Linked DNA regions of Homo sapiens: all the other regions are reported to be linked to region 1. Evidence: microRNA targets listed by miRTarBase, many of them from high-throughput screens and not tested one by one. Region 1 holds a microRNA gene; each other region holds the end of a gene's coding sequence.
Evidence for each region. The annotated mature microRNA hsa-miR-454-3p reads UAGUGCAAUAUUGCUUAUAGGGU and lies in region 1 at 1,853-1,875, opposite strand. An mRNA with a match to its seed (bases 2 to 7 or 8) in the 3' UTR can be bound and repressed. Matches are read on the target gene's strand: a 7mer-m8 pairs with bases 2 to 8, a 7mer-A1 pairs with bases 2 to 7 and ends in A, and an 8mer does both.

Region 1 (5,000 bases):
ACTTAAAGAGCTGAGGCAGGAGGATTGCTTGAGCCCAGGAGTTCAAGGCTGCAGTGTATTATAATCTCTCCTGTGACTAGTCACTGCACTCCAGCCTGGGCAATATAGTGAGACCCCATCTCCAAAAGGAAGGGAGGAAGGAAGAAAAAAAAAACAGCTTGTGGGTAGAATGTTATCCTCTGTGGAAAATTGTATAGAACGTCTAATAACACACAGGGGCAGTACTGACTTATTATTATTATTTAGACCGAGTTTCGCTCTTGTCACCCAGGCTGGAGTGCAGTGGCGCGATCTCGGGGCTCACTGCAACCTCTACCTCCCAGGTTCAAGAGATTCTCCTGCCTCAGCCTCCCAAGTAGCTGGGATTACAGGCGCCTGCCACCATGCCTGGCTCATTTTTTGTATTTTTAGTAGAGACGGGGTATCACCATGTTGGGCAGGCTGGTCTCGAACTCCTGACCTCAGGTGATCCACCCACCTCGGCCTCCCAAAGTACTAGGATTACAGGTGTGAACCACTGTGCCTGGCCAGTACTGGCTTATTAGTGAAGTCAGTGGGCTAGGGAATAAGCAGGGGGCAAAAAGGATGCCAAAATGTTGAAAGATAGAAAAATAAGCTTTTTTTTTTTTGTTTGAGACGGAGTCTCACTCTGTTGCCAGGCTGGAGTGCAGTGGCACAATCTTGGCTGACTGCAACCTCCACTTCCCGGGTTCAAGCGATTCTCCTGCCTCATCCTCCCGAGCGGATGGGACTATAGGCGTGCACCACCATACCCAGCTAAGTTTTGTATTTTTAGTACAGACAGGGTTTCACCATGTTGGCCAGGCTCGTCTTGATCTCCTGACCTTGTGATCCGCCCTCCTCGGCCTCCAAAAATGCTGGGATTACAGGTGTGAGCTACCACGCCCAGCCGAAAAATCATCTTAAATGTCTGCTCTGAACCCTTCATTTTATAAATGAGAAAATAGCAAAGTAACTTGCCTCTAGTTCTATTTCCATTACTGTTTTCTTATGTAGTTAGACAAAGTTATAGATGATATTTAAGCCATTAAGAGTCACACATGTGGAAAAAATGTAAATTCTTTTTTTTCTTTTTGAGACAGGGTCTTGCTTTGTTGCCCAGGCGAGTGCAGTGGCACAAATCACAGCTCACTGCAGCCTCAACCTCCTGGACTCAAGAGATTTGATTCTCCTGCCTAAGCCTCCTGAGTAGCTGGGACTACAGACGTGCACTACCAAACCCAGCTAATTTTTGTATTTTTTTGTAGAGACAAGGTCTCGCTATGTTACCCAGGCTGGACTTGAACTCCTGAGCTCAAACAATCTTCCCGCCTTAGCCTCTCAAAGTGCTGGAACTACAGGTGTCAGCCACCACACCCATCCAAAAATGTACATTCTTCACCTAAAATTAAAGTTTTTTTATGTTTTAAATTAATATCACTAAAGTTACAAAGCTAGTCAACTAAAAATTCCCTCTGAACACAACATGGTAGTATGGTACAGAAAAATAAAAGAATTCGGATACATGGTAGAAATTCTAGTCCTAGTATCACTAACCAGCTATGTGTCCCTAGGTTAAGTCCCTCATTTCTTTGGGTCTCTCCTATCAAATGAGTTGGAATCTAAGATCCTTTTCAATACTAAAATTCCATTATTTCTTTATACTACAAATAAACCCATTTGTCAAAAAGAAAAGTTACCTTCTTCTAATAAATTAAAAATTTACATTTAAGCCTCAGATTTTAATGTTTATAGTGAAATCTAGTTCCTTGTTTTCTTCCTAAAGATGACTTTTGCTTGTTTCTGCTACATACTTTCTGCAGCCTGCCCATTGTTCTTTCCAAACACCAAAACCCTATAAGCAATATTGCACTACTCAGAACTATTTACACAGCAGAGACAATATTGATAGGGTTCTAGGATCTGGTGATAAACAGAATTTTTTTTAGTTAGATGGCAGAAATTCACTAAGCAATTATGATAATCTAAAACTCATTAGTGTCTGATAAATCGCGCAAATTTGATTCTGATAAACATCATTCACAGCCCTTTCAGTTACAAATCAGCCTCCTGGAAGCCTTGGAAATCAGTGAGGTTATTGTTTAACTTTTTAGGGGCAATGGAATATTTAAAATAAAACTAGTGATTTTTGTAAAGCCCAAGATATTCGTATTTCAGAAACCAGTTTTCTCTAAAATCAGTAATAAAAATAAAGGGGAAAAGTTTTATACTGATCTGAAAAGTGGTATATAAAATACAAAATTAGGTGAAAAAAGTCTATGGAAATCATCATGAAAGCACCCCAAGGGAAACCAGGTTACATTCTGCCAGTTAGATTTCTGATTTTTTCCTCCTATTTTGGAATATTTGCATAATAATTACTGGTTGAGCATCCCTAATCTGAAAATTCAAAATCTGAAATGGTCCAATGAATTTTGGATTTTGGAGCATTTCAGATTTTGGAATTTTGGATTAGGGATGCTCAACCAGTTGTTTTGTTTGTTTGTTATTTTTTGAGACAGCGTCTCACTCTGTTGCCTAGGCTGGAGGGCAGTGGCGCAATCTCAGCTCACTGCAACCTCTGCCTCCAGGCTCAAGCAATTCTCATGCCTCAGCCTCCCGACTAGCTGGGACTACAGGCACACGCCACAACGCCTAGTAAATTTTTTGTATTTTTGGTAGAGATGGGGTTTCACCATTTTGCCCAGACTAGTCTTGACCTCCCGAGCTCAAGTGATCTGCCCGCCTCGGCCTCCTGAAGTGCTGGGATTACAGGCATGAGCCACCGCGCCCAGCCTGTTCTAGTCTAGTTTTCAATATGACCAGTTTAAGGCTTTAAGTAAGTGGCACAAGGTATTCCATACTACTCAACTATTAGGCAGCAAGGAGAAAAGAATATATTGCGGTTGTCACAATATACTGTGTGGTCCTCAGTTTTAAAACACTTGCTTTTTACAAACAACCCCTAGATTCTCATTGCCACCGTATGCTCTCCTACAAAGGACCAGTGCCCTTAAAGCTCTAAACACATCCTCTTATGAGAGACCTTATCTCAACAGCATTAAATTACATAAAGTGAAAAAAAGTATTTCAGTCTCACCTATGGTGGGCTAGGCATAGAGAAGAGTTGGTAGACAGGTGTGTTCTGGACTTACTAAACAGGCTTAGAAATGCATTTTCCGGCTGGGCGCAGTGGCTCACGCCTGTAATCCCAGCACTTTGGGAGGCTGAGGCGGGCGGAGCACGAGGTCAGGAGATTGAGACCATCCTGGCTAACACGGTGAAACCCCGTCTCTACTAAAAATTCAAAAAATTAGCTGGGCATGGTGGTGGATGCCTATAGTTCCAGATACTCGGGAGGCTGGAGCAGGAGAATGGCATAAACCTGGGAGGCAGAGGTTGCAGAGAGCCGAGATGGCGCCACTGCACTCCAGCCTGGGCAACAGAGCAAGACTCCGTCTCAAAAAAAAAAAAAAAAAAAAAAGAAATGCATTTTCCATAGAAACATTTTAAGGGAGAATTAAGTATCTTAATGGAACTAGTTTGGCTATAATCAAAAAACCTACTTTTATTTTTATTTTTAAATTTTTTTTGTTTTTGAGATGAGTGCTCACTATGTTGCCCAGGCTAGTCTCGAAATCCTGAGCTCACGTAATCTGCCCGCCTTGGCCTCCCAAAGTGCTAGGATTACAGGTGTCAGCCACTGCACCCGGCCAGAATCTACTTTTTGTACATTTTCTTCTCTTCAATGTACATTTAGAAACACCTTTATCTACTCTCCTTTTACTTTGTTCATGGCTTTGGTTTACCATCTACTGTATTATATTTTAATCTATGTTTACATGGTAATGTCGCCACATGGTTTCAAACATCTTCCTGGCAAGAGATCGCTTTTTTGTATCCTTAGTTTTTAATATACAGCCTAATGTGCAGTGACAAAAGGGAATAGATGAAAGAACAAACATTCATTCATTTGAAAGAACAAACCACCTGGGAACCCAACTACCCTTTAAAACACGTTTTAAGGGAAATATTTCAAGTTCCCAGCAAGCTAAGGACCACTTATATCATGTCTCCACAATCAAAATTGGTTTTTGCCTTTTTCTGCTGGAGAAAGTATTGACTATTACCCATTCTCTCTTCCAAACAGAACAAATGCATGACTATGCTTGTCCAAAACAGATAAGCAGTAACATGCCCTAACACCAGGTCACAGACATGTTATTTCAGGCAATTGGCAACCAGAGGGGATAAAAGTGAGCAAGGGCTTCAGGTTCATCAGTTCCCAATCTGCAAGCTTTTTTTTTTTTTTGAGATGAAGTCTCGCTCTTGTCCCCCAGGCTGAAGTGCAATGGCACGATCTCAGCTCACTGGGTTCAAGCCTCCTGGGTTCAAGCGATTCTCCTGCCTCAGCCTCCCGAGTAGCTGGGATTACAGACACCTGCCACCATGCCTGGCTAATTTTTGTATTTTTAGTAGAGACGGGGTTTCACCATGTTGGCCAGGCTGGTCTCGAACTCCTGACCTCAGGTGATCCGCCTGCCTCAGCCTCCCAAAGTGCTGGGATTACAGGTGTGAGCCACTGCGCCCGGCCCAATCTGCAGGCTTTTATGGAACAATTGCTAGGATATATACATAAGCCCCTGCCTCTAAAAGGCTAGTTTTATTTGTACTATTTATTTTTTTATTTTTTTGAGATGGAGTCTTGCTCAGTTGCCCAGGCTGGTGTGTAGGGGTGCAATCTCGGCTCACTGCAAGCTCTGCCTCCCGGGTTCACGCCATTCTCCTGCCTCAGCCTCCCTAGTAGCTGGGACTACAGGTGCCCACCACCACACCCGCCTAATTTTTTTTTTTTTTTTTGGTATTCTTTAGTAGAGACAGGGTTTCACCGTATTAGCTAGGATGACCTCAATCTCCTGACCTTGTGATCCACCCGCCTCAGCATCCCAAAGTGCTGGGATTACAGGCATGAGCCACCGCGCCTGGCCTAAAAGGCTAGT
Region 2 (5,113 bases), not on the chromosome of region 1:
ATGCTCCCGCACACACACGCACACACACGCACACCCACGCCACATGCACATTTAGTTTTCCTCCATTTCTCCCGCCTTCCCAGATTGCAGGCCTGCTCCTTTAAGAACTGGCTGAAGGGGTGGGGGAGGGAGATTGGGAACGCCCGGCAATCAGCCACCACGAGAGGGGAATGAGAATGTGTGTGTGTGTGTGTGTGTGTGTGTGTGTGTGTGTGTGTGTGTGTGTCTGTGTGTGTGTGTGTGTGAGAGAGAGAGAGAGAGAGAGAGAGAGAGAAGAAAAAGGAAGAGGAGGGAGGGCGGGTAAAGTGGCTAAAGGGGTGGGGGCTCAGAGGAAATGAGGAAATGGGGAGCAAAGTATGGGGGGTAAGATCCCAGACACTGCCCAGAATGCACCCGGGTGTGGGGAGGAGGGGAAGGGGAAGGAAGGGGTAGGAGTAGGGAGGTGGGGCAGGAGGGAGTGGGTGGGTGTGTGTATTGGGGGGGGCATAGTCCGCAGCTGAGTTCACACAATCCCCCCATTCACCGTCTCCATGGCAACTCCAGGGCACAGACCGCTCATTCACACAGCTTCCCCACCAGCAACCCCCCCACATTAACCCCCTCGGTGCTGCCCCCAACCCACAAATTCCATTAACCCTTTCGGGATGCCCTCCTCTCCAGTAACCCTTCGGCGCCAAATGCCAAATTCTCCTTTGAGTCAATTCCCTGCAGCCCCTCCCCCGTGAACACCTAGACAATCGGACCGACCCCCAAACGCCCTCTGTACCCTAGGACCCACTGTGAATCCCCAAGGCCAAGATCTCCATCCTGGTCCAACTTGCAATTTGGGAGAAGACAAGGGGAGGCAGCAATGCCGGGGATGAGAATGGCATCTCGGGGTACTTTTGGGGCTGCAGCGGTGCTGGGCGCGGGGCATTGTGCAGGAATGGACCAATATTGAGAACTGCAGTATTGGGGGCTACGAGGGCTTGGAATGGATTGGGGGATGGAGTTGCACTGGAATGGGGGAGGATAGGATAAAGGCCTCCATTGGGTGGGGGGGCTGCAGATAGTGGGGGAGGGAGCCTGGCTATGAGATGCTATGATGGAAGGGGGATGGGGCTGCACTGCAGGGGAGGGGGGACTGGCAATGTGCAATCCCGGGATGGGGCTGGGGGCCCTCAATAGGGGTATTTTGATGAGCATGCGGGATGGGCTGTGGAAATAGAGGGACCATGGGCGGGAGGATGTTAGGGATGCGGGATTTAGGGAGGAGGTAGAAGGGAGAACAGAAGCGGGGGAGGATCGGGGGTCAGGGGTACCGATGGAGAACATGGGGTTGAGAGGGATGGGGGCCACTGGCTGGGGAGTGGAGGAGCCTGGGATTGGGAGGGGTTAGGATGGGGGCAAGGTATGGGCAGCTAGAGGATGAGAGACCGGGGCAGGCGGCCTCACCTGTTCCCCGGGCTGCTGCAAGCGACTGAACCGGGCCACGGACCACCCATATCGCCTCCAGGCCAAGGGCTCCGCACCCGAATCCCCGAGATCAGCTCTCCGGCAGCCTGGCTGCTGTGCCCGCGCACCGAGGGGGCGCGCTGCGCGTTCCCGGACACGGGGGGGCGCGGTCCCTGCCATTAACTCCTTTTGTGCCAGAGATGGCTCAAGTCCTGGGGCATGGCCCAATTCCCCCCATGCTCAGGCACGTTCCGCTCCCTCTCTCTCACGCGGGCGCGCACACACACCTCAGATTGCAAGCTATCAGACAGGTGATCTTCCAGGGCAGCTAGCCCAAACTTTACCCGCAAAGCTTGAGACTTTGTCCCAAAGGGAGAAACTGAGGCACTGCCTGCAGGAACCCTCAGTCATACTACACAAAAACACACCTCCACCTCAATCAGCATCCCTTATTTCTCAGCGCCAGCACTACCCAAGCAGCAACCAGTGGGGCCACTCTGCTCTCATCCTGTCACTCTCCCAAAGGTCAATGCTGTTCCCTTCTGCTGCTTCTGCTGGGGCATGTCAGACTGTCAGCATGCCAGTTGTCTGACCATTTCAGTCTCTCCCCTCCAGGTTCAGTGTCTTTGTGTCTTGTGTTTTTGTATGTGGCGCACCTGCCATTTGTTTAGCAACCCCCAAGCCCCTCTGAATGTCCCTCATCCCAGCCAAGCCTGTACTCCTGTGGCTCCTCAGAATGTTTATGTCAGGATAGAATAAGTGAGAAGAAAGCTTCAGTCATGTTTGCCTTTACACTGTTGGGGAGTTCCATTCCTTGTGCACGCAACTCTTAAACTTGGTAAGTCCCATATAAGCAAGGGCTTCGTGGGCCTCAAAGAGGGCTATTTTATTTTTTATAACTTGGGTACTGATTGGTGCTCCTGGTTTTGCCAGCACACTAGACACTTCCCAGTAATAGGGTGCAACTATGGCTTGCATGTTATCCTTAAGTTGTCAAATCATCCTGTACCACCCACTCACAAGGCTGAGGCTGATCCTCTTCCAGCCCTAGCTAGGCAGGGCAGAAGACTCCAAGACTCCATTGTAGTAAACCAGTTGGCTCTCCTGGACAGCCTTGGATCTAGAACTCAAACTGGAAAGCAAGAGGGCGAGAATGGCCCTGCCGCAGCTCCAAATGTGACTCTGGGGCAACAGTTTTGAGTTTTCTCTACTGTAAAATGGGAGCGAGCAAGTCATCCTGGGTAACTGCCAAGGTGGGTCACGTGAGAACAGGCAGTTCTGGCAGTAGGGCAGAGAGAGAAAGGGTGCTTATTTTTACTGGTCTCTCTTCCTCCTAGAACCAAACGGTCCTTCCACGACCTATTCTATGATGGCACATGCCAATGGAGGGCAATTTTTCATCCAGGAATGTGACTCTCAGGGAAGTTCTCTGTCCTATGAAAGGTATGCCACTTGGTGCATGATGGGGACCACACAAGATGACAAGAAGGGTAGGCAGTGTCTGTCATCTCCACCCTCCCCAGCTTGTTTGAGGCCCAACATCTGGGGTGTTGTGGAAGAAGAATCAGGTTCTATTGATGTTTCCCCTGGCCTAATGGCCCCTCCTCAATCCCAGCGGTATATCCCCCATGGAGGAAAGCTGTAAAGAAGCTCCAACATTTAGTTGAGAATGTTCATTGCCCCTTCTTAAAAGACTAAGGGGACGGGTGTGGTGGCTCATGCCTGTAATCCCAGCACTTTGGGAGGCCAAGGCGGGCAGATCACCTGCGGTCAGGAGTTCGAGACCAGCCTGGCCAACATGGTGAAACCCCGTCTCTACTAAAAATACAAAAATTAGCCAGGCCTGGTGGCATATGCCTGTAATCCCAGCTACTCGAGAGGCTCTGAGGCAGGATAATCACTTGAACCCAGGAGGTGGAGGTTGCAGTGAGCTGAGACTGTGCCACTGAACTCTAGCCTGGGCGACAAGAGCAAAACTCCATCTCAAAAATAAATAAAAAGAGACTAAGGGCCTATACCTTAATGTGTTGCCATGTTGAAGAAGAGGAAGAGAGGGTAGCAATCCAATTAGAATTAAGAAATTTAGGCCGGGCGCGGTGGCTCACGCTTGTAGTCCCAGCACTTTGGGAGGCTGAGGCAGGTAGATCATGAGGTCAGGAGTTCGAGACAAGCCTGGCCAACATGGTGGAACCCTGTCTCTACCAAAAAAAACACAAAAATTAGCCGGGCGTGATGGCACATAACTGTAATCCCAGCTGCTCGGGAGGCTGAGGGAGGAGAATCGCTGGAACCCGGGAGGCAGAGGTTGCAGTGAGCCGAGATCGCGCCACTGCACTCCAGCCTGGGCGACAGAGCAAGACTCCGTCTCAAAAAAAAAGAAAAAAAGAAATTTTAGAGTGTAAGGTAAACAGGGGAGATGATCAGAATAGAATGAAGACTCTGACTTGTTGGTCCAACCCCCTGCATTCTCCCAAGAGACCACCCTTCCCAGACATGCAGAACTCGCACACTCCCTTTGCAAAGAAGCTCTGTGTATTGGGTGCAACAGCTCTGGGGTCTCTATATAAATAATATACAAAACCCAACAGCTCAATGCCTCACATTAACAAAAATACTAAAAACTTATTAAAAATGGAGCCTGAGGGGAGGGCCCCAACCACTACTGGTGCTAGCCCAGGAATGGGATTGGGAATTAAGAGGAAAGGGTGGGGCCACATCCAGTGCACAAGCAGTTCCTCCAGGTGGCTCAGTAGCGTCCAAATATGTTGGTACTGGGCTGTGGCTGGGTATCTGTGAAAAACCAGAGATTATCAGGGATGGAAGACCAGGCAGGGGTGTGGGTATGCACGAGGAAAGCTGTTCAGGTATCGAGGGAAGGGGATGGAATGGAATGCCTCCTCTCATAACCTGGGCCTGAAGCTATCGTTTCAGCTACTTTGGCCCACCCCGCCCCCTAAATTTATTCCATGGGGTTCTCCTTGGGAAGGCAGGCAGGCTTACTAGAGAGCTGTTGTTGAAGTTGCCGGACCAAAGCTGCTGTCTGTTGCTGCTGCTGGGTCTGCTGAAGCCCCTGGCGCTGGAACTGGGTGGAAATAGGAAGTGGAAGACTGAAGTCGAACTTTTCTCCTTCTTCAACCTCCTTTCCCAATCCGTTTTTTTTTTTGAGATGGAGTCTCGCTCTGTCCCCCAGGCTGGAGTGCAGTGGCATGATCTTGGCTCACTGCAACCTCTGCCTCCCAAGTTCAAGCAATTCTCTGCCTCAGCCTCTTGAGTAGCTGAGATAACAGGCACCTGCCACCATGCCCGGCTTATTTATTATTATTATTTTTTGTATTTTTAGTAGAGACGGGGTTTCACCATCTTGGCCAGGCTGGTCTTGAACTCCTGACCTCAAGTGATCCACCTGCCTTGGCCTCCCAAAGTGCTGGGATTACAGGCGTGAGCCACTGCGCCTGGCCTCCCAATCCATTTTTAGGGTGCCATGCCCTGCCTCCCACCTCTACCCTATTCCATACTGTCCCCAACCCAGTTCACTGGCTGCGTGCCCAACCTGGGCAGCTGTCCCTGAGCCTGGGGCTGTAGTCCAGCAGCTACCTGGGGCTGGGACTGGGGCTGGGGTTGGGGAGGAGCCGCCTGTTGCTGCTGTTGCTGCTGGTGTTGCTGTTGTTGCTGTTGCTGC
Region 3 (5,113 bases), not on the chromosome of region 1:
TAGGTGTTCAGAAATTGTTGCTAAGGTTAATATGAAGATGAGATTGGATATTAATTGAGGTGTATTAAGTTACCGTCATGGTTCTAGGTTACTACATAGCCACTTTAATAACCAAGTTCTTTCATCTGATAGAAAGTACACTAGAATACTAAAACAAAAAATCCCAGCTAGAGAGAGTTTTTTTTTTTTAAAGAAATTACATAAAATGAGTAAAATGGAAAGTTTAATCTCCACACCCTAATGAGATTTTTTTCCCATCAACTTAATGGAGCAGTCACTGTTACCTGAATTGTAACTCATACTTAAATGTTCTATTTTAAAAACTAAGCTAAAATATCACACATTTTAAGTTTGTTAGAGTATGCTTAATTGTATCTTTCAGCTGTGTTTATCAAAAAGAAAGCTTCACATGGCATTTAGACAGAATTCTACTTGGTTAAATAGTTTATGCATCACCTTAGGAAAATAAGTATTACTTCTCTTTTTAAAATGCAAACTGTTAGGTTTATAATACCATTTGAAGAATTTTCCCTCTCTCTTATTTTCTCTTTTAACAACTTCTTTTTTTCCCTTCAGAGTTATAGAAAATGGAGAGAAAAATCGAATGACCTATCAGAGTATAGCAATTGTTTTTGGTCCCACTCTATTAAAACCAGAAAAAGAGACTGGTAATATAGCAGTTCATACTGTGTACCAGAATCAGATTGTAGAATTAATTCTTCTGGAACTGAGTTCCATCTTCGGACGTTGATTCTTACTGAAGACAACCTGTGGAATAGAAGCTGGATTCCATCAGATTTCAAATGTTTATACACAATGTATTTTATTTTTTGGACCAAGCAGTGACTCTTTGATTTTGCACTTTTTTTTTGAGGGATCAGAAGGGAAGGGGAGAGTCGAGATGTGTGTTAGGCCCTCATATTTGCTGCTTTGTTGCAAGTTGATATAACTGCGTGTAATTATGAATTCATTTTATCCTGAATGTTTGCATTTCATACTCTGAATTTCAGTAAAAATCAAAACTTAAAATTCTAACCAGTCATATACACTGGATAATTTGGTAAGAAAACTGTATTTTTTTTCCCTGAAATTGGATAATGTACTTTCTTCTCAAGATTCATGACTTGATAGAACAATACTTTCAGTTATGTTGCAAAGGCTCTTGGGCATTTTAAACAAAATGAAGTATATCCATTTTGAAACCTGTGTATTTCTTTTTCGGGGTTTCTGCATGCAGTGGCAGTCTTAAGTGCCAAAATTCATTATAACCCCAAAATAACCCCTTGATGAAGGCTTGCTGTCTTTTACTGTGTTACACAGCATCCTTACTGGATATCTTAGTTGCTTGTTTGGGCAGCACACTAATATTACTTAAAACACTGTGATATACTGGAGTTTTAGTTAGCGGAAGTCAGTTCAGGGCATTTTAGGGCTGTCTTGCTATACTGAATTGTAGCTAACAATCCTAATTATATCTAGTACCATACTGAGTTATTGGTATGACCCTGTGGAAACACACATTATTTTATGTAAATATAGGCTAAAGACTTAATGTCCTTTAGCTTGTGTATATAATTGTGTTGTATAGTCTCAGAGTACATTCTAACCCTACATTTCTAATCATTGTTATTGGTAATCTTTTCTGTGAATATTAGGTTTCCTCCAGAAATAGTCCGTTATTTGGGAAAGTTAACTGTGTGCACTTTTAGATATTAACTACATTTACAGGCAAATCACTGTAATGAGAATGGTACTGGAAAAATACTGAATAGACTTGCTAAATGGCACATGCACTACAAGAGGAACCTTTTGGGTTATTTAATATGTACAGAAAACATTAGAAAAAATTTATTACAGAATTCTAATTCCAGTATGAATAGTGGAAACCCATCTGTAAATTAGATGGATGTTGGATGGAAAATGACATTGCTAAATTTGAGAATTTCTTTTTACCTACTAATGTAGATTGCTTTGTATAATAAAACACAGGGTTTGGAAGGTTTTGTTACAGGGAGCATGGTCTGTTGAAGATTTTTAAAATGTATTTTTCTAGATTAACTTCTGTACATGAAATGTCTAATAAAACTATAAGAGGTTTAGAGATTTTTCCATTGGAAATGTGCATTTTGGTTTCTAATTTTTTTGTTTTTTCATTTACTGGCATACTGTTATACCTCATTTTTAAAAATCAACTGAATCCAATATTTCCTGTGGCAAATAACACTTTCCTCATTTCATACCTTTTCTCCTCTCTTCCATGCCAACATTTCTCCACCCACAACGTACACTTTTTATTTCTCCATCAATATTTGAAAGCGAGTGATTTGTGACCAGGATTTTTTTTTCTTAGGGTTGCATTTATAATTTACAGATTGCCTTCCTTGGGAACAAGTATTTTTTTGTATGATCTGTCTAAAAACCTCTCACCTGAATTTTGTGGTAGAAAGTCTGTATTTGTTGTTGTGAGCGTGTTAAATTGATAACAAACCAAACTACTTGATAGCTAAAGCAGATTGTTTCGGGTGGGGAGAAAAAGCCCTAAATCAGAATGTTTATATTTGCCTAAAGATGTCCTTAATAATACAATATGCTTTAGATCTTGCTTATTTAGTGATTGTATACCAGGAAAACAATTAGACTCAAATCAGTGATGTTCTTGTTCTTGGTGTTCATGAACATATATCAAAGATTAAAATTGTCCTGTGTTTCTTGTTTCAAGGTACGTGTGTGTGTGTGTGTGTGTGTGTGTGTGTGTGTGTGAAGTCTTAAATGTTTTATTAGTCTACAGCTAATCAGTTTATTGTAATATTGTATGTACAGTGAGATTAATGTCTTGCGTTTTCATCCTTTGTGAATTAAAAATTCTCACTTGTTTTGTAATAACAAAGCTAGTAATATTTTCCTGTCTTGACAGCTTGGTTTTATAGTAGAAAATATATTAAAAGCTGAAATAAATTATCAGTGGAATTTTATTTGTTAGTAAGTCTTCCTTCATAATGTCATTGAAAAAGGTAGTTGCAGATTTAGAAAAGAAAGTATATTTAAATACATTGTCACATTCCAATTAGAAGAAAAACACTTATTTAAATTTTATAGAAATAAGAAATTTTACCCTTTACTCTGGAGAAAGTACGTTAATTATTAAATAATCTCCAAAAAATGATGTTTATATTTTAGATAGAGACAAATCTATAAATTGTTTTTATGTGAAAAGCACAAATGAAATAATTTGGTGAAACTTTGGACTTAGTGGTAGATGGGTTGTGCGTTTATAACATACACACAAACGTGTGTGTGTGCTAAGTGTTTGTGCACGCCGTTGCTTACATACAAGTGAAAACTCACCAATAATGCAGATACATGGAGACCTTTTTACTATTTCAGTTTCATTCCACGCTTCTTTGCAAGCCCACAATATTGAACATTAAGATAGCAGTGGGCTGGGCGCAGTGGCTCACGCCTGTAATCCCAGCACTTTGGGAGGCCAAGGCAGGTGAATCATTTGAGGTCAAGGGTTCGAGACCAGGCTGGCCAACATGGTGAAACCCTGTCTCTACTAAAAATTCAAAAAAATTAGCCGGGCATGGTGGCAGGCGCCTGTAATCCCAGCTACTCGGAGGCTGAGTCAGGAGAATCACTTGAACCCAGGAGGTGGAGGTTGCAGTCAGCCGAGATCGCACCACTGCACTGCAGCCTGGGTAACTGTGAGACTCCGTCTCAAAAAAAAAAAAAAAAGACAGCAGTGAAGGGAAAATAGTTATTCCATAATTGTGCCAAGAGATTTTTTCCAGCTCATGGGAGAGGCTTCTAATTAAATACTTAAACATGTAGTTTCCCATGACTCGAATTCCTCAAAGATCTTTAGGCATTTTTAAAGAAATACACAGAGGAGTCCACAACACATCTTTTTAGTAAAGAAGAAAATAAAAATAGTCAAGTGGGCGCCACGCTCTCACTAGTCTAATAAAAGTCAAATGTTCAAATATTGCATCTCTATAGAGAATTGAAAATGGGTAGAAAATAAGATTTTATGGAGTTTACTATTCTCCCTGAACTCCAGCCATGAGCTCTAATGATCTTCTTTTATAGAAAGCAATTCTCTGGGTAAGACTACAGAAAGTGTTTAATAGGGCCTTTAGCCTGCATGTTACAGTCTTGGAGGCGGAGCATAGTTTTTGTTGTTATTTTTTTTAAACAGTATTCCAGTGCAGCTAACATAGTACTATTAATTGCAACTTTAGTTTGAGACAAACAAAAACAAAAATCAAATGGGTGCAAAACAAAATCAACTGTCTTACAATGATGGTGTATTAGAATCTGTTGGGAATTCACAGGCTGTGTCCTCAGGCCGGGCAGAGTCAGACTTAGTATTCTAGAGAAGGGGGAGGTACAGAATGCCTAATGAGACATCTGTAACTACCAAAGACAAGGGAGTTCTCCTGAAGAATCTCAATTAGTCTGCTCAACTGAAGTTTTGTGGTCCAGTGGTGGCTGCAAGTATATTCAGCTGGATTGAGCTTTTACAAATTAGCCTTATGTGAATATAGCACTTAAATGAACTCTTTCATTTCCTTCATTGCTTCCCTTCTCCCACAGGGCCGGGGGGGCGGGGGGCGGGAAACGAAAGAAAGAAACCACTTTTATGGTGCTCTCATAAACAGAGCACTTGTACAACAAGGTAACTGTTTAACAAATTACTACAATACGTATTTACAATACATGTTTTTTCTCATCGACCCTCTTCTCCCTTTATTTTATTTCCTCTCTTTTAAGGTTTTCAGAAAAGCAGTCTTTGGTAAAGATTTTTAATTATTAATGCTGGTAGCCAGATCTTTCAAGTACTTATGATAGTTGTGGCTCATACTGCAAGTAGCTTAGAAACTTGTAACACTGTCATAAATTTATATTGATGAAATCCATAGTGACATGAGAGTGACAAATGATGCTGTAGAGGTCTTCCTAAACAGAACATTTGCAGAGGTAGAAATCAAAACCACTGTCAAGTCATGGTGGAGTAACCAGTGAAAATTCAGCACAGACTTCAAGGCCACCTTTTCCTCCTCGGCATTTTGAGAAATTGTTTATACAGTCATGTGACTGTTAGTGATGAGGA
Region 4 (5,000 bases), not on the chromosome of region 1:
AGGCACCCACCACCACACTGGCTAATTTTTGTATTTTTAGTAGAGATGGGGTTTCGCTACATTGGCCAGGCTGGCTTGAACTCCTTACCTCAGGTGATCCTCCCACTTCGGCTTCCCAAAGTACTGGGATTACAATAGGCGTGAGCCACCGTGTCTGGCCTAAATTTTGTTTTTAATTAGGGAAAGGAAAGGGCAAAGGGTTTGAGTTGCTGTCTGAACTGTGAGAAAAATGGCTGTAATATTTTTCTACCTTTTCAACTTTTTAAAACTAATCTTTCTCATTATCCTCAGATCATAGGTATATTGAACTGTTCCTGAATTCATGTCCAAAAGGAAAATAAGACTCTAGGGGCTCCAGATAATAAGGTAAATTTAAGAGGTAATACTGTGGGCTGGGTGCAGTGGCTCACACCTGTAATCCCAGTACTTTGGGAGGCCAAGGTGGGCGGACCACCTGAGGTCAGGAGTTCAAGCCAGCCTGGCCAACATGGTGAAACCCTGTCTCTACTAAAAATACAAAAATTAACCGAGCATGATGGTGGGTGCCTGTAATTCCAGCTACTCAGGAGGCTGAAGCGGGAGAATCACTTGAACCCGGGAGGCAGCGGTTGCAGTGAGCTGAGATTGTGCCACTGCACTCCAGCCTGGGCAACAGAGCGAGACTCAAAAAAAAAAAAAAAAAAGAGAGAGATACAACTGTGGAAATTATTTGCTATTGATAAACTAATAATCATTCACTCACTAATTTGTAATATGGTAGAAACCATTCTCTTTTTATTTTTCAAATTTTTTTAGGGACTAGGTCTTGCTCTGTTGCCCAGGCTAGCAGTGGTGCGATCATAGCTCACTGCAGCTTCAACCTTCTGGGCTCAGGTGATTCTCTCACTTCAGCCTCCCAAGTAGCTGGGACTACAGGTGTGTACTACCATGCCTACCTAATTTTTTAATTTTTTGTAGAGATGGGGTCTCACTATGTTGCCCAGGCTGGCCTTGAACTTCTGGCCTTAAGTGATCCTGCTGCCTTTGCCTCCCAAAGTGTTGGAATTACAAGAGTGAGCCACCCCGCCTGGCACCATTCCTTTTTAATAAAGATCAAACTAATGATAATTGAAGTGTCAATATAAGGAATGAAAATTCTCGCTCTGGCTTCTCAGATGTGGGGGGCAAAAAAAAAAAAAGAAAATTCTGCTGGGAAATAGAATTAATTATGATATTTTTTCATTTTTTTTAAATTTTATTTTATTTATTTATTTATTTTTTGTGAGATGGAGTTTCACTCTTGTTGCCCAGGCTGGAGTGCAATGGCTCGATCTCCACTCACTGCAACTTCCACCTCCCGGGTTCAAGAGATTCTCCTGCCTCAGCCTCCCAAGTAGCTGGGATTACAGGCATGCACCACCACGCCCAGCTAATTTTTGTATTTTTAGTAGAGACGGGGTTTCTCCATGTTGGTCATGGCTGGTCTTGAACTCCTGACCTCAGGTGATCCGCCTGCCTCGGCCTCCCAAAGTGCTGGGATTACAGGCGTGAGCCACTGTGTCCGGCCTACTTTTTATTTTTTTTGAGACAGAGTCTTGCTTTGTTGAGCAGACTAGATTGCAGTGATGCAGTCTGGGCTCACTGCAAACTCCGCCTCCTGGGTTCAAGTGATTCTCCTGCCTCAGTCTCCCGAGTAGCTGGGACTGCAGGTGCCCGCCACAATGCCTGGCTAATTTTTTTGTATTTTTAGTAGAGATGAGGTTTCACCATGTTGGCCAGGCTCATCTTGAACTAACTCCTGGCCTCAAGTGATTTACCTGCCTTGGCTTCCCAAAGTGCTGGGATTACAGGAGTGAGCCACTGCTCCCAGCCATAATTCCTTATGATTTATATGGTAGCTTTGAGCATTATCTCCATATAGAATTTTTATGCATAATTTCCAACATCATGCTGTTTGCCAAAAAATAGCCACCTTTAGTAGCTATAAATCGTAATAGACTGGATATGTGACTTGCATTAGCTTTTTTTCCCCACTTAAATTTAAACACGTTTTCCATTTTCTCAGGTTACTTTTGTTTTTTTTTTTTTTTTTTTTTTGATATGAAATCTCACTCTTTTTGCCCAGGGTGAAGTGCAGTGGCACAATCTCAGCTCACTGCAACCCCTGCCTCCCGGGTTCAAGTGATTCTTCTGCCTCAGCCTCCCAAGTAGCTAGGATTACAGGCATTCTCTACCACATCCAGCTAATTTTTGTATATTTAGTAGAGACGGGGTTTCACCATGTTGGCCAGGCTGGTCTCAAACTCCCGACATCCAGTGATCCGCTAGCCTCAGCCTCCCAAAGTGCTGGGATTACAGGTGTGAGCCACCACGCCCAGCCATTTTCTGTTTTAAGGTATTTTTAAAAGGATACCATGTGAAACCAGAGTGTATCATCCATAAACACAGTTAATGTGCCACTGTTTCCTTTTCCTAAAATGGCATTTTTTTTTTGCCTTAGGAAGTACATAATTTTATAGTGTTAACCTACCCGTGAGATTTGCTTAATACATCTTGATGTTCCTTGCCTCGATTAAATATATGGTGTCTTTTTTTTTTCCCATAAGGTATTGTAAGTATTACTGTTGTATTGCAGTCACTTTTCTACAGGTAATGGCTCATTCTTTTGAGACACTTACCTGTAATGATTTCTTGAAAACACATGGGGCCAGGCATGGTGGGTTACTCCAGTAATCCCATTACTTCAGGAGGCTGAGGCAGGCAGATCACCTGAGGTCAGGAGTTTGAGACCAGCCTGGCCAAAATGGCGAAACCCTGTCTCTCCTAAAAATACAAAAATTAGCTGGGTGTGGTGGTGCATGTCTGTAGTTCCAGCTACTGGGAAGGCTGAGGCAGGAGAATCACATGAATCTGGGAGGCGGAGGTTGCAGTGACTGAGATGGTGCCACTGCACTCCACCAGCCTGGATGACAGAACGAAACTCTGTCTCAAAAAAAAAAAAAAAAAAGGAACAAAAAAACACGGACATTCATTCTATTACTATATCCTATTCTATTGCTTTTTTTTTTTTTTTGGGAGACGGAGTCTCTCTCTGTCGCCCAGGCTGGAGTGCAGTGGTGTGATCTCCGCTTACTGCAACCTCCGCCCCCCGGGTTCAAGCGATTCTCCTGCCTCAGTCTATGAAGTAGCTGGGGCTACAGGCGTATGCCACCATGCCCGGCTAAGTTTTGTATTTTATTTTTATTTATTTATTTTTTGAGACGGAGTTTCTCTCGTTGCCCAGGTTGGAGTGCAATGGCACAGTCTCAGCTCACTGCAACCTCTGCCTCCTGGGTTCAAGTGATTCTCCTGCCTCAGCCTCCCCAGTAGCTGGGATTACAGGCATGCGCCACCACACCCGGCTAATTTTTTATTTTTGTGGAGACGGGGTTTCTTTATGTTGGCCGGGTTGGTCTCGAACTCCTGACCTCAGCTGATCTGCCCGCCTCAACCTCCCAAAGTGCTGGGATTACAGGCGTGAGCCACCGTGCCTGGCCTCTTCTGTTGCTATTTTTGGATATGAAGTCCCACAATTCTTTGGTGTTAAATATTTATAATAGCTAAAATCTATTTAAAATATATTCTGAAACTCAGTTTTTTGTACCAGCCTGTAAACACTAATGCCTGACTAGTTTTCCTCACTTTAACTCGGTTTATCAGATAGCTTGCACTAAATTAGAAAGGAGAAAAATTTGAATTTGCAATTTTAAATGGTATGGGAATGTGTGCCATCCTTTTTCATCTTGAGTAAATGTACAATATTTTTTGTTTTATTTTTAGGGTGAAGCAAGAAGCATTTCATTTGCACATCTTTCTTGGACTTGGGATATACAGTTCCAGTTTATTAGCAGCAACTGCTAGGGAAATGATTTTGGTGTTTTGGGTTAATTGCTTCTAAGAAAAGTTTCATAGTGGACTGTTTAGAAGAAGAAATGAAAGATCCAGTTTGGGATTATGAAATAAACCACAAATTAAAATTTTTGTTTAAACTGTCCAGGATCTGATTTAAAAATATGGTCTTTGTTTTATATGATTAAATGGTTTGTTTTCATAGATGATATGTTACTCATTGTAAAGACCACATATTTTTATTCAGCAGTGTTCTTTAAACGGTTTCATTTAAAAAGTAACTTTTTTTTTTTGCCTGTGAATTGAGTGCTCTGATGTAAAACTTCTCATGGAGTGAAACAGTGATTTATTTTAACCAAACATTCACCAAAGCAAAGAACGGTTTCAGACCTTTGAACTGGTATGGTTTGGCAGAATAGTTTTAAATTTTGCTGTATTTGATTACTTAGAGATAGGAATTTTTAAAAATCAAAACAAAAAATACCACAGCTTAGTGTAAATGACAATTTGGCGGTTTTATGTCTTTAGAAATGTTTTGCCTTTCTAAGCCTTGTGCTAAAGGCGTATAACGGTGGTGCCTATCTACTTAAGGGGGCATTCTAGTCTTAACTTAAAAGTTGTCTAAACTGTCCCTCCCTGGCTTTTTTTGGTTTGGGGTAGACCTAAGGGTGTTTGTTAGTCTCAAAACTGTGAAGTGACATGTCAGAACAGTCCAGACTGGTAAGAAAATTAATGGCTTCACTTGAATTTAAACCAGCTCTAGATAGGAAAAAAATCAGTCTCCTCATTTGCTTTTTAAATGGAGTAGTACATCCCATATTTTAGAACAAGTAGGGGTGCCTTGCTTAAATAAAAATAGCATTTAATGTATAATTGTGTGAAGGGTTTATGGATAAAGCTGTACTTCTGTCACAATGTGGCAGTACTTTCTGCTTTAATATTAAACAGCTTGTTATTTAAATATTGGACAAAATGGCTGGCTTCAAAATATAGTCATTAATAAACTAACTTTATGTGCACCTGTGTAGGAGAATCAAAATCCTGTATGCTTTCTTTGCCTTGTTCCTGTTCTCAGGGTGACGACTGCCACCAGGAGATGCAGTTCTAGTTCTTAAAATTAAATTTGCCCAGGT
Region 5 (5,113 bases), not on the chromosome of region 1:
GTAAATATAAGTGCATATTTAAGGTTTTCAAAAATGTACACTCTATTCTTAGAAAAAAAAATAGCAACTTACAGCTCACACATACAGGCTGCTTTGCTGTGACCCTAGAATAGGTTTAAAAATGCCTAGTGATGTGGCCCACTACTTGAAAGGCCAAGGGCTCTAAATCCCAGCCTCTGTTACTCCACAGCTGGCTTTTTTTTTTTTGGTCATAATATGTCTCACTGCTTCCCTGGATCTGGAGGGGTACAGAAGGGGTAGGAAAGGAGGCTGCAGACTAGAGTTCAGAGATGAAGGAACTACTGTGAAGATACAGCCAAAGTATAGCAATTGAACTGTACATGTGAAACGTATGTAGCTTTGCCTGAAGAACTGTTTAGATTTTATATTGCAGTGTTGGGTAGAATTTTCCCCAAAACTTAAAATTTTTATGTAACAAAAGATAAAATTTCAGTAACCCATAGCTTATAAAATCTCAACTCTAGTTTGTACTCACTTGCCTGCTGCTTATTACCCAGGAAAAACAGTGCTAAATTACTAAAAGTTTGTCAAAGATATACAGACAAATGTTTTTCAAAATAAGGATATGTAAGTGAATAGTGTTTGTATGAAGTGAGTTTTTCTAACACTTCTGTCTCTCAGTTCCACAAACCAGAGTCACTGCCTGCTGTGGACCCTGCTTTCCTGGCTCCTGTGATGGAGCCCCAGAGTAGTTTGACTCTAGGCAGTTTAAGGCTCTGCAGTTTGCAATCACTACTAATGGAGAAATTCATTTTCCCTGCAGTTTAAAGCTCATGCATCATTCTACTACCCTCTCTTATGTGAAATTATGCAATTTGACTTGATTCCTGAACTTCGTGCTGTTCTTAGAAGATTTTTTCTGCGAATCGGAGTAGTTTTTCAGATATCACAACCACCTGAACAGGAACTTGGAATAAACAAGCAATGATGGGAACTTAATATTTTTGTTGGCATTTACATCCCTCTGCTCTTTAAAAGGACGCTGGAGCTGAGGTTTCCTACCTGAAAAATGATTTCTCTGGATTGCAGTGTCTGAGTTACTGGTAAAGATGCTTAGAAGTCTTACTCAAACTTGCAACACTCCAGTCCCTTTTAGTGCTGGTGGATTTTGTGTGTTATATTGGCCTCATGTTGAGCAGAAAGCCTGTTTAAACAGTGTCAGCTCATGCTCACGGGTCCTTCCCTGTCTTCCACGGCAGGAAAAGCCCCACGTTTTTGGCAGGTGTGGAAGTGAAACTTACCCAAAGAACTATAGATGTAAAGATTGAACTTCTACAAGAAGTACAACTCAGGAGAGCTGTATTTTGAAGGATAAAATGTTTATAATTGGGGAGTGGGGAGAGAAGAAGAAATTATTGTTCATGGTAAAAGATATTTAGCAACTATGGTATTCTTATTCTGAAGATTTTTGCACACTCAGGCTATCTGAGATACTGGTAATCATCCTGTGAAAAATGTACAGAGATGCAGGTCTGTAATATAAAAATCTTAAAACATTATATAGTTCTTCCTGCACTGTTTTCTTTATTTTCTTATTCATTTGCTAAATACCCATAATATTTTGTCAAATGCACTAAACATTTGGGTGGAACTTTCTTTTTTATTTTATAGGGATTTTTAGTTTTGCCCTTTTTGGTAGGTGGTGATTTTGAGGCTGTAACATGCCCAGAAGCTGTTGTGGCCGACACTTCAACAATAGGGAAAAAAAGGTAGAAAATATCCCTACTGACAGTAACTACCTGTCACATATTTCTCTTAGGACTTTTAAAGATGAGCCATTAAAATAGAATGATCCTTTATGGACCAAAACTTGAATCACTGCAAAATGAATCCAGATTGCTGTCATTTTCTTTTCTTTTGGGTGGTGGGGCTTGATGTAGATTTTACTCTATGTACAGAATTTAACGTTGAATATATTAAAATAACAAATCTGGCATGGTTTGCGGAGGTTAGATTTACTGGAAATGTATTCATACTGTGAATTGTGCTCTGATGGTTAAAAGACAAGATTGTCAAGCATTCCGTATTAACAGTGGATGTAGAAAATTTTTTCAGATGGACAAAATGTATATGGTACAGATGTAAAGTTTTCTATGTAAAAAATTCTGTACAACTTTCTGTACAATATTGATTCCCATCTGGCATATTCTAATCAGGTTATAGGTCAATAAAGTTTTTGAATTATTTCATCAGTGCAATCAAAACCTGTATAACCCACCCCCATGTTTCATTGATTCTGGTCTATTAAGGCTGAACAACTATGGAAAAGACATTTTCAGCCAGAACTACAAATTCAATATTGTTTGGTTCTGGTATTTTCTTTCCAGCTTCTAGCATTAGATCCTCCTTACACTGTACTTACCATAGGATACTTATTTTTAAGGCAATTTTTAAAATTTTTATTTATCTTTTAGAGACCGGATCTCACTCTGTTGTCCAGGCTGGAGTGCAGTGGTATGAGCACAGCTCACTGTAGCCTCAAACTGGGCTCACGATTCTCACACTCCACCCTCCCCAGTAGTGAGGACTGTAGGCACACACCACTACACTTGCCTAATTAAAAAAAAATTTTTTTTTTTTAGAGATGGGATCTCACTATATTGCCCAGGCTGGTCTCAAACTCTTGGACCTGAAGTGATCCTCCCAACTCAGCCTCACAAAGTGCTGGGATTATAGGCATGAGCCACCATATCCAGCCCAAAAATCTTTTAATATTTTTTGCATATTAATAACCTAGCATCAGGCTACACTACTTGAATGCTGAAAAGAGCTAAAGTTCTCTTCAGCACAGTTTGCAATATTGTGTGTTCGAGGAGTCAGTTGAAGTTGTGTGGTACATGGCATTAAACAAAAAGGGAACGTGTCAATATCATCTAACATGGTTGTGTTAAAGAGGAAAAGTATTCAGTCTTTGCTTTCACACCTCTCTTAGATAATGAACAGTTACTGAACAATGCATTTGTAAGTAAGTGTGCTGTATTTGTTACACCCAAGACAGCTCTAGCTGTGTTCAAGCCCAGCTGGATGCTAGAACTGCGAGCCACTGTGACCTTGCCGTGTGAGGGTAAGTGCTCCACACAACCTGGCAGTTGATTATTTTAATGTTGTAGTATCAGGACTCTTCCCCTAGAAGAGTCAGAGGCTTTCTTCTTACTTTCAGATGACAACAGAACAAATTTTTACGAGTAAAGCAAACAAACAATGGTCCGATTAGAAAATCAAATAAAAATTTACAAGTAGCCAAAACTCAAAATATCAGTAATTTAATTGTGGCAAATTTGTCTGATATTGTCTACCAACCGTTAATTACATCAGAGGAAGTATTATTAGAGAGAGAAGCAGTGCCTGGGGATGTTCTCAGCTGTCATGGTTCTGAGATTCTAATCTGAGTCAGAATGTCACAATTATTTGAATGACTCTTTCCTTTTTTAGAAGTATCACTTACTGAGTGATTAGAAAACTCACATGGACTCACTTATCCAAGGTTCCATGGTGGAAGAAGAAGACTCCAGTCTCTCTGTCCTTGACTCCCGGGTGTCCCCACCTCTATTCAACCTCTAGAAAACTAGTCTAGAAAGCTCCATAGTAGTTAAAAAGATTTTAGTAATTAAAATAAAAATTTATTTATATCAAGAAGTAGTTACATCATGTAATTAGTAACAAGACAAATGCCTTCATTGGCATAAAAATAGAAGCAGAAAGATGATGTAACAAACATTTAACGTATGGCTTACAAAAATACAAGTAATTACAGTTCCCTTCATTTCTGCTGTATCAGTAGCTACAAATGACATGAAATAATAATTAATTAATAGGACATTTGATTGCATCACACAGAAACTGGAATAATCACAGCTACAATAGATGTACCTACTAAATGAATTCTTTTGCATCGAGGTAACAATGGAAAATGTGCATGTAACAAAGGGGAGTCCGGTTTTACAGGACGTTTAAGACACTTATTCACCTTATCTTAATGACAAGCAGAATTCAATATAATGCACATATAGTAGTTCAATCCAGTTCATTACCACCCTAATTTATGACAAAACTGTGCAAAAATAATCTATACAATTCTATTATATAAATCAATAATCATGGCCTTTTATTTATGTACATAATATACATCATGATAAAAATAATTTTATATACAGATGATGGAAAAAAAGTAACTTTCAGGTAGGGGCCAAAAGTAGGACATATTAAAGGTACAGATTTACCATTCCTTTCACCTTAAAAGGCACTACTGGGTCCAGTACAGGTTTATTTTAACCATGTGCAGTCGACAGGCCCTGCCAAGTGAAAGTGCCTGGTTTTCCAGGAATCTGCTGCTGCTCCTGGTTCAGCTGCTCTGCCATGAAACGTTTCAGCGTTTCTGAAGTGCCAGGGCGGAGCCAGGGCTCAGTTGCTACAGAGTTTGATCCGTCATCCCCTATGTGTTTCATGATGTCATCAGGGTCAACCAGTGAACTCTCATCATCTACAGGAGGCAAGGGACACGTGGCTCAGGTAACACAGGTGGCAGGCAGGAGACATAAGCGCAGGTCTCTTGTAGTCCAACTCATTACAACTCAGCATTTCCCCACAGTCTCATATCCTGAACTCTACTGTTTGTTTGTTTTGGTTAGACTCACCCCACCCCACCCTATTTTAGAGGGAGGAGAGTGGGCCCACAAAGGCCAATTTTGTAAAACAAAAAATGATCAACTGAGTAAGCTGACTCCATGGCACTAGCAACCAGAGGGATTCTAAGCATATCAAAGGCACCTCTCCATAAAACAAAGTCAACAGGAGGAATGTAGGTAGTCTTATTTTGTAACTGTTACCTCAGGAGAAGCCTAATGGCTACACATAAAATTTCTTTCTTTTTTCTTTTTATTTTTTTTAAAGCAAGGTTTGGGGAATACTCTTCAACCTACAACACTGCTATAAGGAAATTATTAAGTTATTTTGGGAAAACACTAGTTGGCATGAGATTACTTCCATTCTTAAAACACCTAATCTAACAAGGCCGTGTCCAGTCAATGAAGAGGTAGCTCTTGCTTCATTCTTTAATTGAATCTGATTGATTGTACGCAACTTCTATCTGTAT
Region 6 (5,113 bases), not on the chromosome of region 1:
TGAAGAATGTGGCAAAGCTTTTAAATGGTTCTCAACCCTTACTAGACACAAGAGAATTCATACTGGAGAGAAACCCTTCAAATGTGAAGAATGTGGCAAAGCTTTTAAGCAGTCCTCAACCCTTACTACACATAAGATAATTCATACTGGGGAGAAACCATATAGATGTGAAGAATGTGGCAAAGCCTTCAACCGGTCCTCACACCTTACTACACATAAGATAATTCATACTGGAGAGAAGCCCTACAAATGTGAAGAATGTGGCAAAGCTTTTAACCAGTCTTCAACCCTTAGTACACATAAGTTCATTCATGCTGGAGAGAAACCCTACAAATGTGAGGAATGTGACAAAGCTTTTAATCGATTCTCATACCTTACTAAACATAAGATAATTCATACTGGAGAAAAATCTTACAAATGTGAAGAATGTGGCAAAGGCTTTAATTGGTCCTCAACCCTTACTAAACATAAAAGAATTCATACTGGAGAGAAACCCTACAAATGTGAAGTGTGTGGCAAAGCCTTTAATGAGTCCTCAAACCTTACTACACATAAGATGATTCATACTGGAGAGAAACCCTACAAATGTGAAGAATGTGGCAAAGCTTTTAACCGGTCCCCACAACTTACTGCACATAAGATAATTCATACTGGAGAGAAACCTTACAAATGTGAAGAATGTGGCAAAGCTTTTAGCCAGTCATCAATCCTTACTACACATAAGAGAATTCACACTGGAGAGAAACCCTACAAATGTGAAGAATGTGGCAAAGCTTTTAACCGATCCTCAAATCTTACTAAACATAAGATAATTCATACAGGAGAGAAATCTTACAAATGTGAAGAATGTGGTAAAGCCTTTAACCAATCCTCAACTCTTACTAAACATAGGAAAATTCATACTAGACAGAAACCCTACAACTGTGAAGAATGTGACAATACATTTAACCAGTCCTCAAACCTTATTAAACAAAATAATTCATACTGGAGAGAAACTCTACAAATGTCAAGAATGTGGGAAAGCCTTTAAGCAGTCCTCAACTCTTACTAAGCATTAAATATTGGCCGGGTGCGGTGGCTTATGCAAAATGGCTCCCAGCATTTTGGGAGGCTGAGGTGGGTGGATCACAAGGTCAAGAGATCGAGACCATCCTGGCCAACATGGTGAAACCCTGTCTCTACTAAAAATACAAAAATTATCTGGGTGTGGTGGCACGTGCCTGTATTCCCATCTACTCGGGAGGCTTAGGCAGGATAATCACTTGAACCTGGGAGGTGGAAGTTGCAGTGAGCCAAGATTGTACCACTGCACTCCAGTTTGGCAACAGAGTGAGACTCCGTCTCAAAAAAAATTTATACTGTACAAAAACCCCACAAGTGTGAAAAACATGGCAAAGCCTTTAAGAAGCCCTCAATTCTTAACAGACATAAGATAATTTATACTGGAGAGAAACTCTACAAATCAGAAAGATGTGACTACTTTTGACAACGCCTCAAACTTTTCTAACCATAAAAGTAATTATACTGGTGAGAAATCCTAGAAATCTGAAGAGTGAGATAAAGCCTTTAAATGGTTGTCACACTTCATTGTAGGTAAGATAATTCATACTGGAGAAAACGCCTACATGTGTGAACAATATGGCAAAACTTAATGCTCACACTTTATTGCTAGGAAAGCATTTATACTTGAGATAAATTATACAAATATAAAGACTGTGAAAAAGCCATCATTATCTGCTCACATTTTACTCAACACAGAGAGTTCCTGCTTAATAAAAGCATTATAAGTGCAATTACTGTCAAAAGATCTTTCAGAAAATATAAGCTTTTTTAGTGAAGAGTATTTATTTTGAAGTTGAACATCACAAATATAAAAAGGGTTGTAGTGCCTTTACTTGTATCACAGATCTTTTTGTAGACATTTTCTTCTAGAGGAAAACTCTGAAGCAGTTGATCAAACTTTGTTCAACATCAGGGAATTTATATTGAAAAATTGTGCAAATATAATAAATTTGGAAAAACAATTTTTCAAAAACTACAGCTTAGAAATCAACAGTTATACTAGAATATATTTTTTCCAGATGCAGTAAAAGTAAAATATTTAATCCATAATTAAGTCTATGCAAATATCAGAGAATTTATGGTAGAAATATATAAGGTACTGACACTTCAGATATACTAAATCAGAGTGCTAAGTATAGAAAATCTGAAACTAAAGTTGGTAGAAAAGTTATTTGTATAGAACTTTAAGAGGATCAGAAGGTTTTTTGCAGAGTTATAATTACATTCAAAGTATACTTTATTTCTTGAAAAATATTACAGATTTTTTGAAAATTGAATAATGTCATCATTCAACTCTGAAATTATTTCCTGTTGTTTCTTCATTCCTATTGGATTCACATGTGAAAGCATGGGGTTAATTGTTGCTACATCAAAGAGAGAGATTCTTTTGTTTGTTTGTTCGTTTGTTTTTTGAGACTGAGTTTCACTCTTTCGCCCAGGCTGGAGTGCATTGGCATGATCTCAGCTCACTACAACCTCTGCCTTCTGGTTTCAAGCAACTCTTCTGCCTCAGCATCCCAAGTAGCTGGGATAACAGGTGCCAGCCACCATGCCCAGCTAATTTGTGTATTTCTAGTAGAGATGGGGTTTCACCATATTGGCCAAGCTGGTCTTGAACTCCTGACCTCATGTGATCCGCCCGCCTCAGCCTCCCAAAGTGCTGGGATTACAGGCTTGAGCCACCACGCCCAGCCTGTAGCATATTTTAATAGGAGAATACAATATATAATAGTAGCAGGGTTAAGTAAGGCATCCATCATCTGTAGCATTTCTCCTTTGTTTTACAAACAATCCAATTCTACACTTTAAAAAAAAATTTTTAAATGTACAATTAAATTTTTATTTACCACAGTGTTATTTTTATCGTCATAATAAAAATTATATACGAGTATAAATGAAATTCATTTCTAAATTCTTAATAAATATTTTCTCATGCCAGGTGTGGTGGCTCACGTCTGTAATCCCAGCACTTTGACAGGCTGAGCGAGGGAGTGGATCTTGAGGTCAGCAGTTCGAGACCAGCATGGCCAATATGGAGAAATCCCGTCTCTACTAAAAATACAAAAATTAGCCAGGCGTGGTGGCATGTGCCTGTAATCCCAGCTACTCAGGAGGCTGAGGCAGGAGAATCGCTTGAACCTGGGAGGTGGAGGTTGCAATGAGCCAAGATCACCCCACTGCACTCCAGCCTGGGCAACAGAGCGAGACTCCATCTCAAAAAGTAAAATATATTTTCAAATTTTCTATATATTTTTCTTTGAACATGTGGCCTGTCTGCCTGCAAACATATACAGACTTTTAGTTTTGATTCATATAGAGTTAAATACATGTTAGTCTAAAGACAAATCTTAGGTGTAAGAAAATTATGGAGTTAAGTATGTGTGTGTGAGTATGAGTTTGTACATATTTTCAGAAGGAAAGAATGATACGGGAACAAAAATCATTTTAATATGGTGACTACTATAAAACTAAAAACCTAAAAAATGCTGAAAGCAAATGTATACTTTTTGGTTTGTATTGAATTTATTACTGTACAGTCTATGACTTAGAGTTCTGAATCTTCCCAAGCAAATTCTCTGTATATACTTGCCTGGTACTCATGCTAGACCCATACTTTTTTTGTTTCTTACATTTTTTTTGTTTTATATTTTATGAAGTATTCATTATGTGAGCTGGTCTGCGATTATAAGAATTTTTATGAAATTTAGTGCACACAAAATAATCTTTAGATGTAATTCCAAAAGTAGTGTATTAAGTTACATTTTATTTAGTTAGAGCACTCCATTTTGTTCTTTTAAGAGGAGAACAATATATAGGTTTTCTTTAGTGATTTGTTCCTTTCACTTTTTATAATTGACATAAGCATATTTATTGAGTCAATTTGTTCAGCTAAGTACTAGGGAGGCTTCATTAGTCATGAGGATGTTTTTATATATAAATGTAGCAAACATATATTACAGTTTTCACTGTGTAATAGATTATCCATAATAATTCATAAATATTCCTGCTGAAGTTAGTTTGTAACTTCAAGTCAAAGATGAAAAATATCAATGGTGAAGATTGATTGTTCATATAGAGAGGACATTTTTTTTCCAGACTGTAAAACTGAATCTTGTTGAATTTAAAGAGAAATTCTGGCAGAGGCAGATGAATCACCTGAGGTCAGGAGTTTGAGACCAGCCTGATGAATATGGTGAAACCCAGTCTCTACTAAAACTACAAAAATAGCCAGGCATGGTGGTGGGTGCCTGTAATCCCACTCGGGAGGCTGAGTCAGGAGAATTGCTTGAACCCGGAGGTGAAGATTGGAGTAAGCCAAGATTGTGCCGTTGCACTACAGCCTGGGCGACAGAGCGAGACTCCATATAAAAAAAAAAAAAAAAAAAAAAGAGCTGGGCGTGGTGGCTCACGCCTGTAATCCCAGCACTTTGGGAGGCCAAGGTGGGCGAATCACTTGAGGTCGGGAGTTTGAGACCAGGTGACCAACATGGAGAAACTCCATCTCTACTAAAAAATACAAAATTAGCCCGGTGTGGTGGCGCATGCCTGTAATCCCAGCTACTCGGGAGACTGAGGCAGGAGAATCGCTTGAACACGACAGGTGGAGGTTGCAGTGTGGCGAGATTGCACCATTGCACTCCAGTCTGGGCGACAAGAGGGAAACTCCATCTGAAAAAAAAGAGAAATTCTTTTATTTTCTACTTCTCTTCAGATTTGTCTTATGCATTTTCCAACTATGTATGCATCACAGCTATTCTTTTTCTGAGTTATAGCTACAGTTTTCTTACTGTTGTCTTCATGCCATTTCATTTCACATGGTACTTTGTAGATTTTGATGAGGAAGTTGGTATTTTTAGTGCACACAAAAATTGGTTTTAACTGTAGAGTTTGCTTATCAGAACAGTTAAAAGGCAGCCAGGTGTGGCTCACGCCTGTAATCCCAGCACTGAGATAGGCCAAGGAGGGTGGATCACTTGAGGTCAGGAGTTTGAGACCAGCCTGACCAACATGGTGAAACCCTGTGTCTACTAAAAATACAAATTTAGCCACG

Region 2: miRTarBase lists MED12 as a target of hsa-miR-454-3p. The part of its 3' UTR that is shown has no 7-base or 8-base seed match.
Region 3: the mRNA of ARHGAP12 is a reported target of hsa-miR-454-3p. Seed matches in the 3' UTR shown: 7mer-m8 at 857-863 and 7mer-A1 at 1,790-1,796.
Region 4: miRTarBase lists GRSF1 as a target of hsa-miR-454-3p. The part of its 3' UTR that is shown has no 7-base or 8-base seed match.
Region 5: the mRNA of CSPP1 is a reported target of hsa-miR-454-3p. The part of its 3' UTR that is shown has no 7-base or 8-base seed match.
Region 6: miRTarBase lists ZNF431 as a target of hsa-miR-454-3p. Seed matches in the 3' UTR shown: 8mer at 4,392-4,399 and 7mer-m8 at 4,695-4,701.

What each region holds. Positions count from the first base shown.
Region 1 is chr17:59,135,935-59,140,934 of GRCh38, forward strand. It overlaps MIR454 (microRNA 454), which reads right to left and starts at 1,938; the gene lies at 1,824-1,938. All of the region lies in intron 1 of SKA2 (spindle and kinetochore associated complex subunit 2), which reads right to left.
Region 2 is chrX:71,141,286-71,146,398 of GRCh38, reverse strand. It overlaps MED12 (mediator complex subunit 12), which reads right to left. Exons shown (of 45, transcript NM_005120.3): 43 at 5,029-5,113; 44 at 4,435-4,516; 45 at 3,949-4,224. The coding sequence ends at 4,181. NLGN3 (neuroligin 3) reads right to left here and starts at 1,558. Exons shown (of 8, transcript NM_181303.2): 1 at 1,435-1,558. It overlaps LOC124905197 (a long non-coding RNA gene), which reads left to right. Exons shown (of 4, transcript XR_007068262.1): 4 at 2,772-3,853. RefSeq lists a silencer at 487-742.
Region 3 is chr10:31,803,296-31,808,408 of GRCh38, reverse strand. ARHGAP12 (Rho GTPase activating protein 12) reads left to right here. Exons shown (of 20, transcript NM_018287.7): 20 at 577-3,011. The coding sequence ends at 751. Among named protein-coding and RNA genes, the nearest start is that of MACORIS, 98 kb to the right of the region's middle.
Region 4 is chr4:70,819,660-70,824,659 of GRCh38, reverse strand. GRSF1 (G-rich RNA sequence binding factor 1) reads left to right here. Exons shown (of 10, transcript NM_002092.4): 9 at 292-366; 10 at 3,799-5,000. The coding sequence ends at 341. Among named protein-coding and RNA genes, the nearest start is that of GRSF1, 18 kb to the left of the region's middle.
Region 5 is chr8:67,194,770-67,199,882 of GRCh38, reverse strand. It overlaps CSPP1 (centrosome and spindle pole associated protein 1), which reads right to left. Exons shown (of 31, transcript NM_001382391.1): 31 at 3,269-4,501. The coding sequence ends at 4,290. ARFGEF1 (ARF guanine nucleotide exchange factor 1) reads left to right here. Exons shown (of 39, transcript NM_006421.5): 39 at 785-2,225. The coding sequence ends at 949. Among named protein-coding and RNA genes, the nearest start is that of CSPP1, 130 kb to the right of the region's middle.
Region 6 is chr19:21,183,005-21,188,117 of GRCh38, forward strand. ZNF431 (zinc finger protein 431) reads left to right here. Exons shown (of 5, transcript NM_133473.4): 5 at 1-5,113. The coding sequence ends at 1,030. Among named protein-coding and RNA genes, the nearest start is that of ZNF431, 44 kb to the left of the region's middle.